2 linked regions of the Homo sapiens genome follow. The protein of the gene in region 2 interacts with the protein of the main gene of each other region in a biochemical or structural test. Each region holds a gene or a part of one and is shown on either strand. Other genes may lie near its edges.

Region 1 (6,635 bases), on a different chromosome or scaffold from region 2:
CGTGTGGGAACACTGGCTGCCATTTCATCACAGTCAACCTGGACTCACAGAATTTCAAGTAATTTCAAGTAATTCTTGTATTTTAGTTTCCCTTGTAGGGCACAAATTGGTGCTAGCAAATGACTTACTTCTGAATCTGTCTCACCCCCTGGTTAATTGCTGGTTACCCCTTTTGGGCTCACCTGTGTGTAGGTGGCCAGGCTCACCTTTTGTTTCTTTTTCTTTCTTTCTTTTTTTTTTTTTTTTTTTTGAGATGGAGTCTCATTCTGTCGCCCAGACTGGAGTGCAGTGGCATGATCTCAGCTCACTGCAAACTCTACCTCCTGGGTTCGAGCAATTCTCCTGCCTCAGCCTCCCAAGTAGCTGGGATTACAGGCATGCGCCACCATGCCCGGCTAATTTTTGTGTTTTTTTAGTAGAGATGGAGTTTCACTATATTGGTCAGGCTGATCTTGAGCTCCTGACCTCAGGTGATCCACCCGCCTCGGCCTTCCAAAGTGCTGGATTACAGGCGTGAGCCACCACACCTGGCCACAGCCTCACGTTTTTGTGAAAAGATGGTGGCATGTAAATACCCAATTATGTGCTTGTCAGGAAGGAAGCGCCTGGTTAACCGGAGAAAGCTCCTGGTAAAGAAGAATCCATAACAGAGGCAAAACATACTGGCCAGTTTTCGCCCACTGCTGAGGTCCTGAGGGCAGCCACAGCCTCTGAGCCAAGGGGAGTTCAGTGTCCATAAGCCTTGGAGGCTTGCTTGCACAAGAACCGCTTTGCACTGCAATTTTGGGGTAGGCAGGTGGGTATCAGAGCAATGTGTTAAGAATGAATAGCTGCGCAGTATCCCTGGTATTGTTCTAAGTGACTGCCATCCACCTGAGCTTCCTCCCTGCAGTGGCAATCCCCAGGCCATTCGTGAGCAGGTCTTCAAAGTGTCCCAAGCTCAGCCCAGCACTTGTGCTGAGGCAGCCACCTTTGGTCTGAAATCTGGCAGCGCAGGATGAGAAGGGGGACATCACTGTGTTCAGGGTGACTTCTGTGCTAGTTAGCTAAGAATAACAATGCAGTCCCATGCGACCACCTGGCAAATTTACATTTGACATTTAACATAGAGAGGGTTTAGTAAAAGCAGCCCTTCAAGATGTTTGGGGAAATAATTTCTGAGTGGCTCACATCATACAACTTTCCGTTCCAGGAGCTTGTCGGTTGGGTCAAGAATGAACCTACGCATGACGGCGTGCTGATCCTGGGTTTCTAGTCATCCTTTTTAAGCTGCAAAGAAGCATTTGCAGACGTTGTCTCATGGGTACCGCTTGCCAACTTTGGAGGTAAATAAAACCTCTCCCCTCTTACAGAGAAGGTGGAAGCCCGGAGTGAGAAGGGAAGAGCGGGGAGGTGATGACCGTGCGTGCCCCGGGCGGCACCGTGGAGGGTGGTTGGAAACATTTTCTTACTGAATCTTCCCAGCAGCCCCGGGCTGGAGCAGGTAAATTGTTCCTTTCCCAGCTGAGGAATCCGAGGCCCCAGGAGCATGAGTAAGTCGTGCAAGGACACCCAGCTAGCTGGACGTTGGGCTCCACCCAACTCTCTCCACTCTGTGAGCCCGACATGCTGTTCCTCTGGGGCCTCGCTTGGTGTTGGCAGCTATCGCTGTTTGTAGCTGCATCATGCCCATGTGCTTTCTTTCCGCCCAGGATGTGAAGCCGGTAGAGAAATAAAGCATCGCCCCTCTGCGCGCCCCTCCCCGTCTGCTAGAATGTTTCTCATGAACGCTTCTCCAGTGGTTGCTCTCCAGTCCAAATGGGAGGCCTTTGGCCCGCCAGGGAGCTGTAGGTTCCCCAGGTGCTTCTCGGAGGCTGACGAGGGCGTGGAGAGCGCGTCGGTGAGCGCCCGGGTGCAGATGCTTATCAGCACTCTGCAGCGCGACGGGGCTGCTCGGGGCACCAGCGATGAGCGCGCCGCACAGAGGGGCCACAGGGCAGAGGGATGCCACGACGCCAGGCCGGCTGCCAAGCCCACCGTGCACAAGGAGCCACCCGCGTTGGCTGTCTGTGGTCTCGTTGCTGACTTTGACCCCATGGGGGAGGAGGAAACTACAGACTTTGGCCCGTTGGTGCTAGATTCAGACAGTGATGATTCCGTGGACAGGGACATTGAGGAGGCCATCCAGGAGTACCTGAAGGCAAAGAGTGGAGCCGCACAGCCCGGGGCCGGCGGGGCCCAGCCAGGTGCAGCCCAGCCTTCCAGGGCCGCAGGCGGAGGCAGTAGATGTAAGCCGGAACCGGCTCACGGCAGTGCCCCGACTGCCCTGTGTCCCCCAAAACTTGTACCTGGATCAGGTGGTGGCCCCGGCAGCCAGGTGGGATCCAGCAAGGACCAGGGCTCCGCCTCCCCGGTCAGTGTGAGCAGCGATGACTCCTTCGAGCAGAGCATCAGGGCGGAAATAGAACAGTTTCTGAATGAGAAGAGACAGCATGAGACCCAAAAATGTGATGGGTCAGTGGAGAAGAAACCAGACACAAATGAAAATTCCGCCAAGTCACTCTTGAAATCCCACCAAGAGCCGCCTACAAAGGTGGTGCATCGGCAGGGCCTGCTGGGCGTCCAGAAGGAGTTTGCCTTCCGCAAACCTCCCCGGTTAGCGAAGATGAACGTCCAGCCCAGAAGCCTCAGGTCCAAGGTCACAACCACGCAGGAGAACGAGGGCAGCACGAAGCCGGCAACCCCCTGCCGCCCTTCAGAAGCAGCACAGAATAAAGGTGGGATCAAAAGGAGCGCCAGCGCTGCAAGGAGGGGAAAGCGAGTCATGAGTGCGGCACAGGCGTCCGAGGCGTCCGACTCCAGCAGCGACGATGGCATTGAGGAGGCCATCCAGCTGTACCAGCTGCAGAAAACACGCAAGGAGGCCGACGGGGACCTGCCCCAGAGGGTCCAACTCCGAGAGGAGAGAGCGCCTGACCCTCCCGCACACAGCACAAGCAGTGCCACAAAAAGTGCCTTGCCCGAGACCCACAGGAAAACACCCAGCAAGAAGAAGCTAGTGGCCACCAAGACCATGGACCCTGGTCCAGGGGGCCTGGACACTGACCATGCCCCCAAGCTCCTGAAGGAAACCAAAGCTCCACCTCCAGCGAGCCCTGCTTCCAGGAGTGAGTTTGTGGAACGGTCCTCGTGCCGGGCGGACACATCTGCTGAGCTGATGTGTGCAGAAGCAATCCTGGACATCTCCAAGACGATCCTGCCGGCCCCTGTAGAGGGCAGTGACGGGTCCCTGTCCGCAAGCCCACTCTTCTACTCCCCGAACGTGCCTTCCCGCTCTGACGGCGACAGTAGCTCCGTGGACAGCGATGACAGCATCGAGCAGGAAATCCGGACATTTTTGGCCCTAAAGGCGCAGTCAGGGAGTTTGCTGGCCAGAGGTGAGAGCTGCCCGCAGGCTGCCCAGGGTCCACTTTTGCCGCCTGGCCTCAACAGCCAGACCGGCGGCCACAAGACCCCTCTCTCTAAAACACCAGACCCACTGCTGGGCTGCAAAAGGAAGCGTAGAGGTGGTGGCCATGTGAGGCCATCCACGCCCAAGAAAATGCAGGAGGTGGTGAAAGACGGTAGCCAGGATGCCGACCACAGCCAGGGGAGAGCTGAGCCCGGCCATGAGAGGCGAGACCTGCCCATCCAGGGCAAAGCCAGTGAGGCCCTGGGAGGGGAGGGCACCGCCAGGGGCCCTGGCGACACTCGCATGTCACAGGGCCAGGGTAAGACAGACGAGGCAAGGCGCCTAGACGAGAAAGAGAGCTCTGAAGACAAAAGCAGCTCCCTGGACAGTGACGAGGACCTGGACACAGCCATCAAGGACTTGTTAAGGTCCAAGCGAAAGCTCAAGAAGAGGTGCAGGGAGCCCAGGGCTGCGTGCAGGAAGAAGGTCAGGTTCAGCACAGCCCAGACGCACTTCTTGGAGCAGCTGGGCGGGCTCCGGAGAGACTGGAAAGACAGGGGCCCGCCAGTGCTGAAGAGCTGCCTCTCCAAGTCCAAGAGAGACAGTGGCGAGGGTCCTGGGAAGAAACCCCCCAGTGTCTTTGGCAGCACGGCAGAGAGGATGAGGCAGGAGGGTGCCGCGAGCCAGGACGCGGCCCTGGCCTTCCGGGTGAGGAGACCCGCCTCCGCCTCTGCCTCCGAAGGGAATCCATTCCCCAGGGAGTCCCAGGGCCCAGCTCCCAGCCCCGGCTCCCTGTCTGATGACAGCAGTTCAGTGGACAGCAACGACAGCATCGAACTGGAGATTAGGAAGTTTTTGGCGGAAAAGGCCAAGGAGTCAGTGAGCAGTTCAGAAGTTCAGGCAGAGGGCCCCACCGCTCTTGGGACAGGGGGCCCAGCCAGGCCAGAGGTGCTGTGCAGGAAGGAGCCTGCCCCACCGCCTGGCGTGTGCACACGCAGCCAGAGGGCCAGGGGGGTCCCACATCTGGCCGAAGGGCTTCGAGGCACAGAGAGCGCAGGAGCACAGGGCACAGCTGGTCTGTTCAGCCAGGGCGGGAAGGGGCTCCCTGCTGCTCCTGCCCGAGGGGATCCGGTGCCGCCCAGGAGCACCAGCGGCGGTGTCTCCGCCAAGGGGCTCTCAGTGAGCAGGAGAAATGTTTACGTTCACAAAGACCAGAGCCCACGAGGGGCTGAGCCTGCTGCCAAAAGTGCTTTTGGTCAGCTGCCCAGCTGTGCCACAGCGGGCACCGAGGCAGGAGGCGCCAGAGGAACCTTTCACATGGGCTGCGGGAGCCCGAGCTTCCTGACCCCCAGCCCGGGAGCGGAGAGGGACGCTGGAGCCCAGGCCGACCGCACACCGCCCTGGAGCGACTTCGCCCACCAGAGTCGGCTGCCCAGCCCGTGGGTGCTGCGCTCCGAAGGCAGAGATGCAGTGTGGAGGGGGGGCGTCGGGAGCGAGAGAGACAAGGGGTCCGAGGGCCCCGCCCGGGGCCTGCCCAGCCTGCCCCTTGCGGGCTTCTCGCCGCTGCTGTCCACCCAGCTCTTCCACTTTGGAAAGGGTGTCTCCTGGGGGGGCAGGCAGGCTGGCCTCTTCAGCCCCCACCTGGGGCTGCCTCTGCAGGGCCCCTCCTTCTCGGCCTTCAGGGAGGCCCAGGCCGGACCCAGCCCTGTCTTTGGAAGCCCACACTTGCTGGCAAAGAAGGACGGCGGCCCCTGGCCAACCAGGAAGGCACAGGCAGGGCTGAGTTTGCATGACAGGAGGAGCTCGGGCTCGGAGGAAAGCATTTTAGACCTGAGGTATCGACGAAGGGTCAACAGGGATGACCAGGAGCAGGACGCCTTGGGCAGTGACGCCAGTGACTTCAGCGACACCTCCACGGAGGACAGTGGCGGCAGCTCAGTAGTGAAGGTCTAAGCCCTCGAGCTGTGGGTTCGCGTCCTGGGTTGCGTGCATTCGTGGAAAGCGGCGTAGCCGTGCGTGTGTGTGATGGTTCCGTGGCTGCAAGGAAGGGAAACAGTCTATTATACATAGCCCTGTATATATGTACACCAACATGAAACTTTTATTTAACAGACGTGTCCTGGTAAATATGATTTTTGTAGCTTTTTGTAAATTATTTAAAGTGATGTAAAAGATATTTTTGGAAAATACTGTTGTTCAATTTTGTAGGGTGTTCCTAACTGCAGTTTTCTGTGTTCTGCATACAAGTCTTAGCTTAGGAAACATTTGGTTCTTACCATCACAGCCAGGTTCACAGAGGCTCTGATGCTTTTTGGTTGATTGCTGGTGAGAATGGCCGGCGGTGGCTGCAGTGGTAGCCTGAGGAAGGCCAAGCTGCCCTCCCTGGGAATCACTCAGATGCCCCAAGATGTCCGTTGGGAAGCTCCCAGGACAGCACTTTTTATACAGAGGACACCGCCTCGGCCCCACGTCCTTAGAGGCCAGAGCACATCTGAAAACTGCAATCACAGCCGTCCGCTGGAAAAACGTTTCGAAGCACAGTGGCCAGCGAGCGAGCACGTGGCTACTCCCTGTTGCATGTCAAATCCACACAGATGTCAGCGGCAGCTGCTCGGCAGCCCAGCCCTGGGCCTGGGTGGGTTCATGTCCAATCTTGTTCGATCACTAGATGATTCTAACATCGAAATAAACCTCTTTTTATATGGCGTTACTGTTCTTTTTAAATCATGGTTCTTAAAGATAACACACGTGCACTTAAAATGTCCTTTTCTCTGGCCGGGCGCGGTGACTCACACCTGTAATCCCAGAACTTTGGGAGGCTGAGGCGGGCGGATCACCTGAGGTCAGGAGTTCGAGACCAGCCTGGCCAACATGGCAAAACCTCGTCTCTACTAAAACTACAAAAATTAGCCAGGCATGGTGGCGGATGCCTGTAATCCCAGCTACTCAGGAGACTGAGGAAGGAGAATCACTTGAACCCAAGAGGCGGAGGTGGCAGTGAGCTGAGATCGTGCCATTGCACTCCAGCCTGGGTGACAAGAGTGAAACTCCATCTCAAAAAACAAAACAAAACAAATTTCTTTTCTTGCACACACCAATAAGCACTGCTTTGAACTTTGGTCCCCAGACACCCAGGGCAGAGATGACGTGCAAAACCCAGTCCTGGGGATAAGCGTTCTCCATACCTGCCCTCCAGAAACAGGAG
Region 2 (7,461 bases):
CTGAAAGGTTAAGTCAGTTGCCCAGTTACTGGCTAATACATGAAAAATGCTAGAACTGGGACCCAGTTGTCCCAAATCCAAACTCCATGCTCTCACTGCTTCCTGATTTACACACACTGTCAACAATACACAGTTTTCTCAAGAAGAGATACGTGGATCAGCTTTCCTTACTACCACAGTCAAGAACTACTCGGCTGGGCAGGAGGATCGCTTGAGCCCAGGAGTTCAAGACCAGCCTGGGCAATGTAGTGAGACCCCTGTCTCTATTTAAGAAAAAACCAACAAAGAATTACTAAAACTTTCTCTTCTCTTTCTTTTTTTTACATTCACTTCCTTGGTCCCTTGTTCTGAGTCAAATCCTCTCTGCCCTGATACACAGCACTCCTTGAACTGCTTTCTAAACAAGACCATGCCACTAGGTCGACTTGCCCCCTTCCAGATCACCACATACAATGTGTTAATTACTAGACTTGATCTTAGCCAAAAGGCTGAGAAGCGATACAATGTATTAATTAATCTTTCAACGGTCTCATATGACTGTGAGAAGTGATACAATGTGTTAATCTTTCAACTGTCTCATATGACTGTTGACTTTCTCATATGTCTATCTCACTTTACAGATGAGAAAACCAAGGCTCTTCTTACCTCTGAGCTTCATCTTGTCCCTATTCTTTCCTATTATTAGTCCAAGGATGCTAAAGATGATACCCATGGCCAATGCTAATTTGACAGGGTGTGGCTTTGCCTTGGAAACTAAAAGTAACCAAATTTGTCTCAACCATTTTGAGACAAATGCCTATACTCCTCCCTCTACCTAGATAACACCATTCATGTCCATTCCTTGCCTGGCTAATTCCTATTCATTTTCCAGGTCTCAGCTTAGATGTCACTTCCCCCAAGAAGCCTTCTCTGGATTCCACTTTCTTGTCTAGGCTGGGTAAACTCCTCATGTGCTTTCTTCCCTTCCTTTCCCTCCTCTCCCCTCCCTTCCTTTCCTTTACTTTCCCTTCTTTCTCCCTCTCCTTCCTTCCTTTTTTTTCTTTCAAGACAGGGTCTCACTCTGTTACCCAAGCTGGAGTGCAGTCGCAGGATCACAGCACTGGAGCCTTGACCTCCTGGATCAAGTGTTCCTCCCACCTCAGCCTCCTGAGTAGCTGGGACTACAGGTGCACATCCCCATGTCTGGCTAATTTTTGTATTTTTTGTAGAGATGGGATTTCGCCTTGTTGCCCAAGACTGGTCTCAAATTTCTGGGTTCAAGCAATCCTCTCACCTTGACCTCCCAAAGCTCTGGGATTACAGGCATGAGCCACTGGGCCTAGCTCTTACATGCTCTTAAAGTTTCTTGGCTTGAAATTGCAGCACGCTAAGCAATAAGGAAACAAAAATTAAAAAGCAAAACTTCCAGGAGCGCCCTATAAAGCTTAAGAATAAAAGAATGAAAAAATAATGTATGTTATTTACTGGCTGGAGTAGTTAGGACAGGCAGAGCCCTAATGGAAAAAGGATATAAAGGATGGTATAGGATATTCATCCTATACCTTGACAGAGGACAAACGCTGGAAGCAAGGAAATGTTTATAAGAAACACTCGTGCTCTTCACGGATGCTTTCGGTATTCCATTAAAGCTTAGAAACTTAGTTTTGAGAGATACCAAAAATCATGTGGTGCAATTCACATCCAATGCTGGAACTATATTACTCTTAAATTTGTCCGGGTCAATGTAAGTATTATAAGCTTTGTTAATTCAACAGACATTCATTAAACAACTCTTATGTTCAAGGGAACTGATGACACAAAGTTGAAAAAGTATAAGGTGTCAGCCCTTAAGGAACTTGTCAGGTAGCCAGGTAGTAGAGAATAAATGGTCATTTATTTATCCACTTAGCAAACATTTATTTCATGCTCTATGCACCAACACAGTATCTTGAAAGACTGGTATTATTGTCATCTCTATTTTATAGATGAGGAAATTGGGTCTCAGAAAGGTTAAGTAATTTCTGAGCTTGCGCAATTATGGTGTCTGGCACATTCTAAGCATCTTTTATCCATTAGCTTATTTACTCTGCATAATCACCACCCGTGAGGTAGCTACTTTTGTTAGCTTCATTTACATATACGGAAATGTCATTCTGAAAGGGTAACTGACCCTACTAATAAATGGCAGAACCAGGATTACCTCCAGACAACCTGGTTCCAGCATCTATGCTCTCAACCACCATGTTCTATTGACATATTGTTAAGCCAGTCAGAGTCAAGTCAGTGTGTGAGGGTCATGTAATGAAGAACAATGCAAACAATAAATGGTCAATATAACTTGTGTCAGTTCTTTCAGTTTCTTTGATTTTTCTCTTCACTCCTTATTGTCCAGTTAACTCCATTACCAAAAATAAATTGCAGAGAAGGAAAATGGCACAATGATGTGGGGGTGATTTTGGCAACAGGTTGGGAAAATATTGCTTTGAGTGGGGGCTTCTACCCTCAGTTAACTGCAGGCTTCTAACTCTCTGAAACGTGCACATTTTAGTGTGGATGAGCTTCTTTGCATCTTTCTGGGAGAAGTTCTACAGCTTTCTTAGATTTCCCTGTGACCCATAAAAGGCTTTTAAAAAAAAAAGACCAATTATTAGCCTACTGAAAGCCAATGGAACATTAGGCACGTCAATATTTTATTATAAAAAAATCTATAAATGCTATGGAGGCATTAAAATATTTAGAACAACCCTGTGGTGACACAGAAAATGTTGATGTGATAATGCCAATAACAATTTGAAAGTGTTATGTTCACTTTCTCAACTCTGATTACCTCCTCAATCCATGCATATTTCACTTCCTTTCTTCCAACTAGACTGTACTTAGCAAGGTCACCAGTGACCTTCACCTTGTCAGATCCAGCAACCACTTCTCTATCCTCGAATTTGCAGTATAGTTGGCCACCAGCTCTGCTTCCATGCCATAACTAGTCTGTTTCTACCTTACTGGCTCTCTTTCCCAGTCGCAAATGCCTCACACTTGAGGTATTTAGGTGTATTTAAGTCACGTCTGCAGCCCAGACTGCTACAGTGAGCTCTGTACAACAATATATCCAATTGTCTACTTAACATCACTCCTTGACTAAAATGTAAGCATCTCAGACCAAGTATTTCCAGTCTGGGCATGGTGGCTCACCCCTGTAATCCCAGCACTTTGGGAGGCCAAGCCAAGAGGACTGCTTGAGTCCAGAAGTTTGATACCAGCCTGGGCAATATAGCAAGATCCCATCTCTACAAATAATAATAATAATAATAATAATAATAATAATAATAATAAAAGAGCTGGGTGTGGTGGTGCATGCCTGTAGCCCTAGCTACTTGGGAGGCTGAGGTGGGAGGCTCACTTTAGCCCAGGAATTGAAGGCTGTGAATATTTTCAAATAATTAATTAATACTATTATTGCCTTTCTCGTTTGGCTCCCAGAACAGTACCTGGTCCACAGAGGACTCTCAAGAAATAGTTGCTGAATGAATGAATGAATGTAAAATGGGGTAAATAATTATATTTTTAAATTATTTTTTAAAATTGTACATATATGTATATATAACTGTACAATTTAACAACATGCTATGTGTAGACATTAAAGTGATGGGAAAAACACCAAACATTAACAGCGGTTGTGCATGAAATTAAAAGATTTTTCTTAAAACTCCTTCTCTATTTTTCAATTTTATTTACAGCGTAGTGGTTAAGAATACCAAAATTTAGAGTCTGAGTGAAGACTGCCAGTTACCAGCTGCACAACCTTGGTTTCCTCTTGTGTCAAATTGGCTTAAAAATATACACAGTACCGGCCAGGCGCGGTGGCTCACACCTGTAATCCCAGCACTTTGGAAAACCGAGGCGGGCGGATTGCCTGAGCTCAGGAGTTCGCGACCAGCCTGGGCAACAAGGTGAAACCCCGTCTCTACTAAAATACAAAAGAATTAGCCGGGCGTGGCGGCGGGTGCCTGTAGTCCCAGCTACTTTGGACGCTGAGGCAGGAGAACTGCTTGAACCCGGGAGGCGGAGATTGTAGTGAGCCGAGATCGCGCCACTGCCCTCCAGCCTGGGAGACAGAGTGAGACTCCGTCTCAAAAAAAAAAAAAAAAAAGTATATATCTATATATAGATATATAGATAGACGCAGTACCTCCTTTGTATTAACATCCCTAATAAGCTTTACTGTGAAATTATGGATGAAAGGATCTTTGCACGATGCAGGTACGTAGTGAGGGACAGTAATGTTAGTTGATAACGATTACAGGTATGTTTTATTTTATAATGAAAATACATTTGTCTTCTAAACCTTTACCGAAGGGAGTGAAAAGAACACCTCACCCAAACGCCCGCCCTTATGTGCGCAGCCCCGCCTCCTGTAGGCCCCACCCCACCAAAGGGTGCGCCTGCGCCGTTCTTTTTTCCGTCCACGTGACCCACTCAGGCTCCTCCTTGTCTCCAACATGGCGGCGCCCAGGGGCTCAAGCCGCACGTGAGAAAGTCTGGGCATCTGGGAATCGGAGAGTATAGCCTGTGAGCCGCTTTCCCCTCCTTACTGTCGGTTGCATCCCTTCGACACTCCCGAGGCCGTCGCGGGCCACTGGCCCTCTGCAGCCATGAAGACAAAGCCCGTTTCCCACAAGACCGAGAACACCTACCGGGTGAGCGCGGGAGCTTAGGCAGGGAGCCGCGGGTCTCCGCTGCCTCAGTCGTGAGACAGGCTCTGAGCGAGACTCCAGGGGCCTCAGACTTCTGGGCCGAGTGTGTCACTTTCCTGGAGGCTCCGGCGAAAGAGGGAGACACTGGATGTAGTAAACATGGGTTGGAGGAGGAAAGAAGTGTGGACAGCAAGTTTCACCCATGTTTTATGGGGTCTGGCCAGTCCTGGGAATTTCCTGTAGTCCAGAATTAAATTCACTATTCCAGGAGATTGCTTAGGACCAATTCTCCCCTGCTCTTTTATCTTTAAAGACCGAATTGGGCGAGTCGGCTGGCGGTGAGTGATTCCCAGCTAAGGGCAAATATACAGCGCTTTCTCTGTTTGCCCCTTGATAGATTGTTTCCAGGTCTTCCTTAGGATACAATCATAGGTCTGTATATGTTTAAAAACACTTTTATTGCAGCGACTTTGCTAGGTCCCCATGCTTATGGGAGGGTATGAAACCTAATAGATCTAGCGAGACTAATTGCCAGCATCCACCTAGGCTCACCAGTCTGGCAATGGAAATTTTATTTGAAATGACATAGCTGAGAGAAATTATGCAAACATAGAAGTATTCATTATCTTTGAACAGTGATGCAGTAAATTTGTTTACGGCCGTATGTTTTTCAGTTTATTTTTCCACTTATCCTTTGTGATTAGAGATGCCTACATGCAGCATTCAAATAGATATTAAAGATCTGATAAATTTTAATTAATTATGTATCTTAAATATACTTTCCCTTCCAGTTTCTTACATTTGCTGAACGACTGGGGAATGTTAATATTGATATTATTCACCGGATTGATAGAACTGCAAGCTATGAGGAGGTAAGAGAATGTGATACTAGTCAATCTTCAAGTGTTCATGGTGTTTTAGTTTCTTCTGTTAGTAGAAGTGAATTGTTTTTCAAGGTATTCCTTTTTGGACATGAAATGCTTTAGACCTGTGCTGTTTCATACAGTAGCCACATATGACAAATTGGATTTAAAGTAAATTAAAAATTTGGGTGCCCAAATGTGGCTAGTTGCTAACATATTGAATAAATATAGAATTGGAACATTTTCATCTTTGCAGAAAGTTCTGTTGGGTGAAGCTCTATTAGACAATTGACTTGACTTTCAGCTGTCTTTGTGATTCTAGCCTCTCCCTTTCCCTTATGCATTCCAAGCACTGCTGCAGATCCATATTCCTGAAGCTATAACTTTAAAGTGATTTTGAGGAAGCCCTTTTCCCGGGGCTTAATTTTCTCCTTTATAAAAATAAAGGGGCTAGACTACATAATATTTTCCAGTTTTAACCATACTCTGACTCTGTCATCCCTTTATTTTACTTTTATTTATTTATTCATTTTTTTGAGATGGAGTCTCGCTCCGTCTCCAGGTTGGAGTGCAGTGGCGTGATCTTGGCTCACTGCAATCTCCACCTCCCAGGTTTAAGCGATTCTCCTGCCTCAGCCTCCCGAGTAGCTGGGATTACAGGTACGTGCCACCACACCCAGCTAATTTTTGCATTTTTAGTAGAGACGGGGTTTTGACATGTTGGCCAGGATGGTCTCAATCTCCTGACCTCGTGATCTGCTCGCCTTGGCCTCCGAAAGTGCTGGGATTACAGGTGTGAGCCACCACGCCCGGCCTTGTCATCCTTTTATGCAGAAGTCTTTTTCTGCATCATGTCGTTATTCCTCCTAGCATTTTAAGGTCGTACGTAACATGCCTATACCTTGGCGATCCAATCTCAGTTCGTAATATTCTTCTTTACTATAATCAGACTCCACTCGCTGGGTCTTTGAATGCATTATCTCCACTGTGTAAATTCAATGTGTTAAATGATGTCGTCTAGGTGAGCACATTGTGCTTTGAGAACTCATAGTAAAGGGAACCTAACCTACATTCTTTAGGGGTGTCAAAAAAACGGTGATCTAGACGAGGTGACACCTGAATTTTGTTTATATAGGTTTTAGCATGGTAAAGAGGACAGGAAAGCCTGTTCCAGGCTGAGGGAGAAGCCTATATAAAGGAACAGAAGCTAGAGAATGCATGTCACATTCAAGAAACTGCAAAGCAGTCCAGTGTGGTTATAGGTGTGTATAGGGTGTTTTTTTTTTGTATTCATGGTGACTGGGATGGGGCAAGGGGGCAACTGGTGAGATAAAGCTGGAGAAATAGGCAAGGATCATAAAGGACTTCATATGTGAAGCTAAGTTGGGGTTTTATCCTGAAGCTGTAGGGACTTAGAGTTCTAGGACTGTAAGCAGGGGAATGAATGACATGATCAGGTTTAAATTTTCAATCTCTCTGGCTTTAGTGTGGAGAAAAGAGCAGGACTGCAGTTCTTCATCATGTCATGATTCCTCTGCTAGCCTTTTAAGGTCCTGTGTAACATGCCTTTAACTTGGAGATCCAATCTCAGTTGTCCAGTTGTGAGGATTTGACTGTTATCTAAGTAAGAAATGATTATGGTAGCAGCAATCAAGATAGAGAGAAGAGAAAGATTCCAGAGATGTTGAGGAAGTAGAATGAATGGATAGGACTTGTGACCTACTGGGTTTGCAGCAAGGAAGATAATGAGGTTAAGGCTGAATGGTTGAGGATGTTACTCATCAAGATATATTTATAGGTAAAGGAGCACAAGGTTGTAAAGATAAGATAATTAGTTCCATTTGGGGCTTGAATTTGAAATACCTTTGGCCATCCAAATGATAGTGTCCAAAAGATGTTTGTATATATGGATCTGGAGTATAGGTGAC

What was found. The genes of interacting proteins can lie anywhere in the genome.
Region 1: the proteins of UTP20 (region 2) and PPP1R26 form a complex in vitro, tested with the Homo sapiens proteins (one study listed by BioGRID).

The regions. Positions count from the first base shown.
Region 1 is NC_000009.12:135,482,758-135,489,392, forward strand, and holds the end of PPP1R26 (protein phosphatase 1 regulatory subunit 26), read left to right. Parts: 5' UTR 1-58; exon of another isoform or gene 59-68; intron 69-594; exon of another isoform or gene 595-796; intron 797-1,192; 5' UTR 1,193-1,325; exon of another isoform or gene 1,326-1,691; 5' UTR 1,692-1,753; coding exon 1,754-5,383; 3' UTR 5,384-6,135; downstream 6,136-6,635. UniProt on the Homo sapiens protein: Inhibits phosphatase activity of protein phosphatase 1 (PP1) complexes. May positively regulate cell proliferation.
Region 2 is NC_000012.12:101,275,655-101,283,115, forward strand, and holds the start of UTP20 (small subunit processome component 20 homolog), read left to right. Parts: upstream 1-4,450; 5' UTR 4,451-4,628; coding exon 4,629-4,673; intron 4,674-5,461; coding exon 5,462-5,542; intron 5,543-7,461. UniProt on the Homo sapiens protein: Part of the small subunit (SSU) processome, first precursor of the small eukaryotic ribosomal subunit.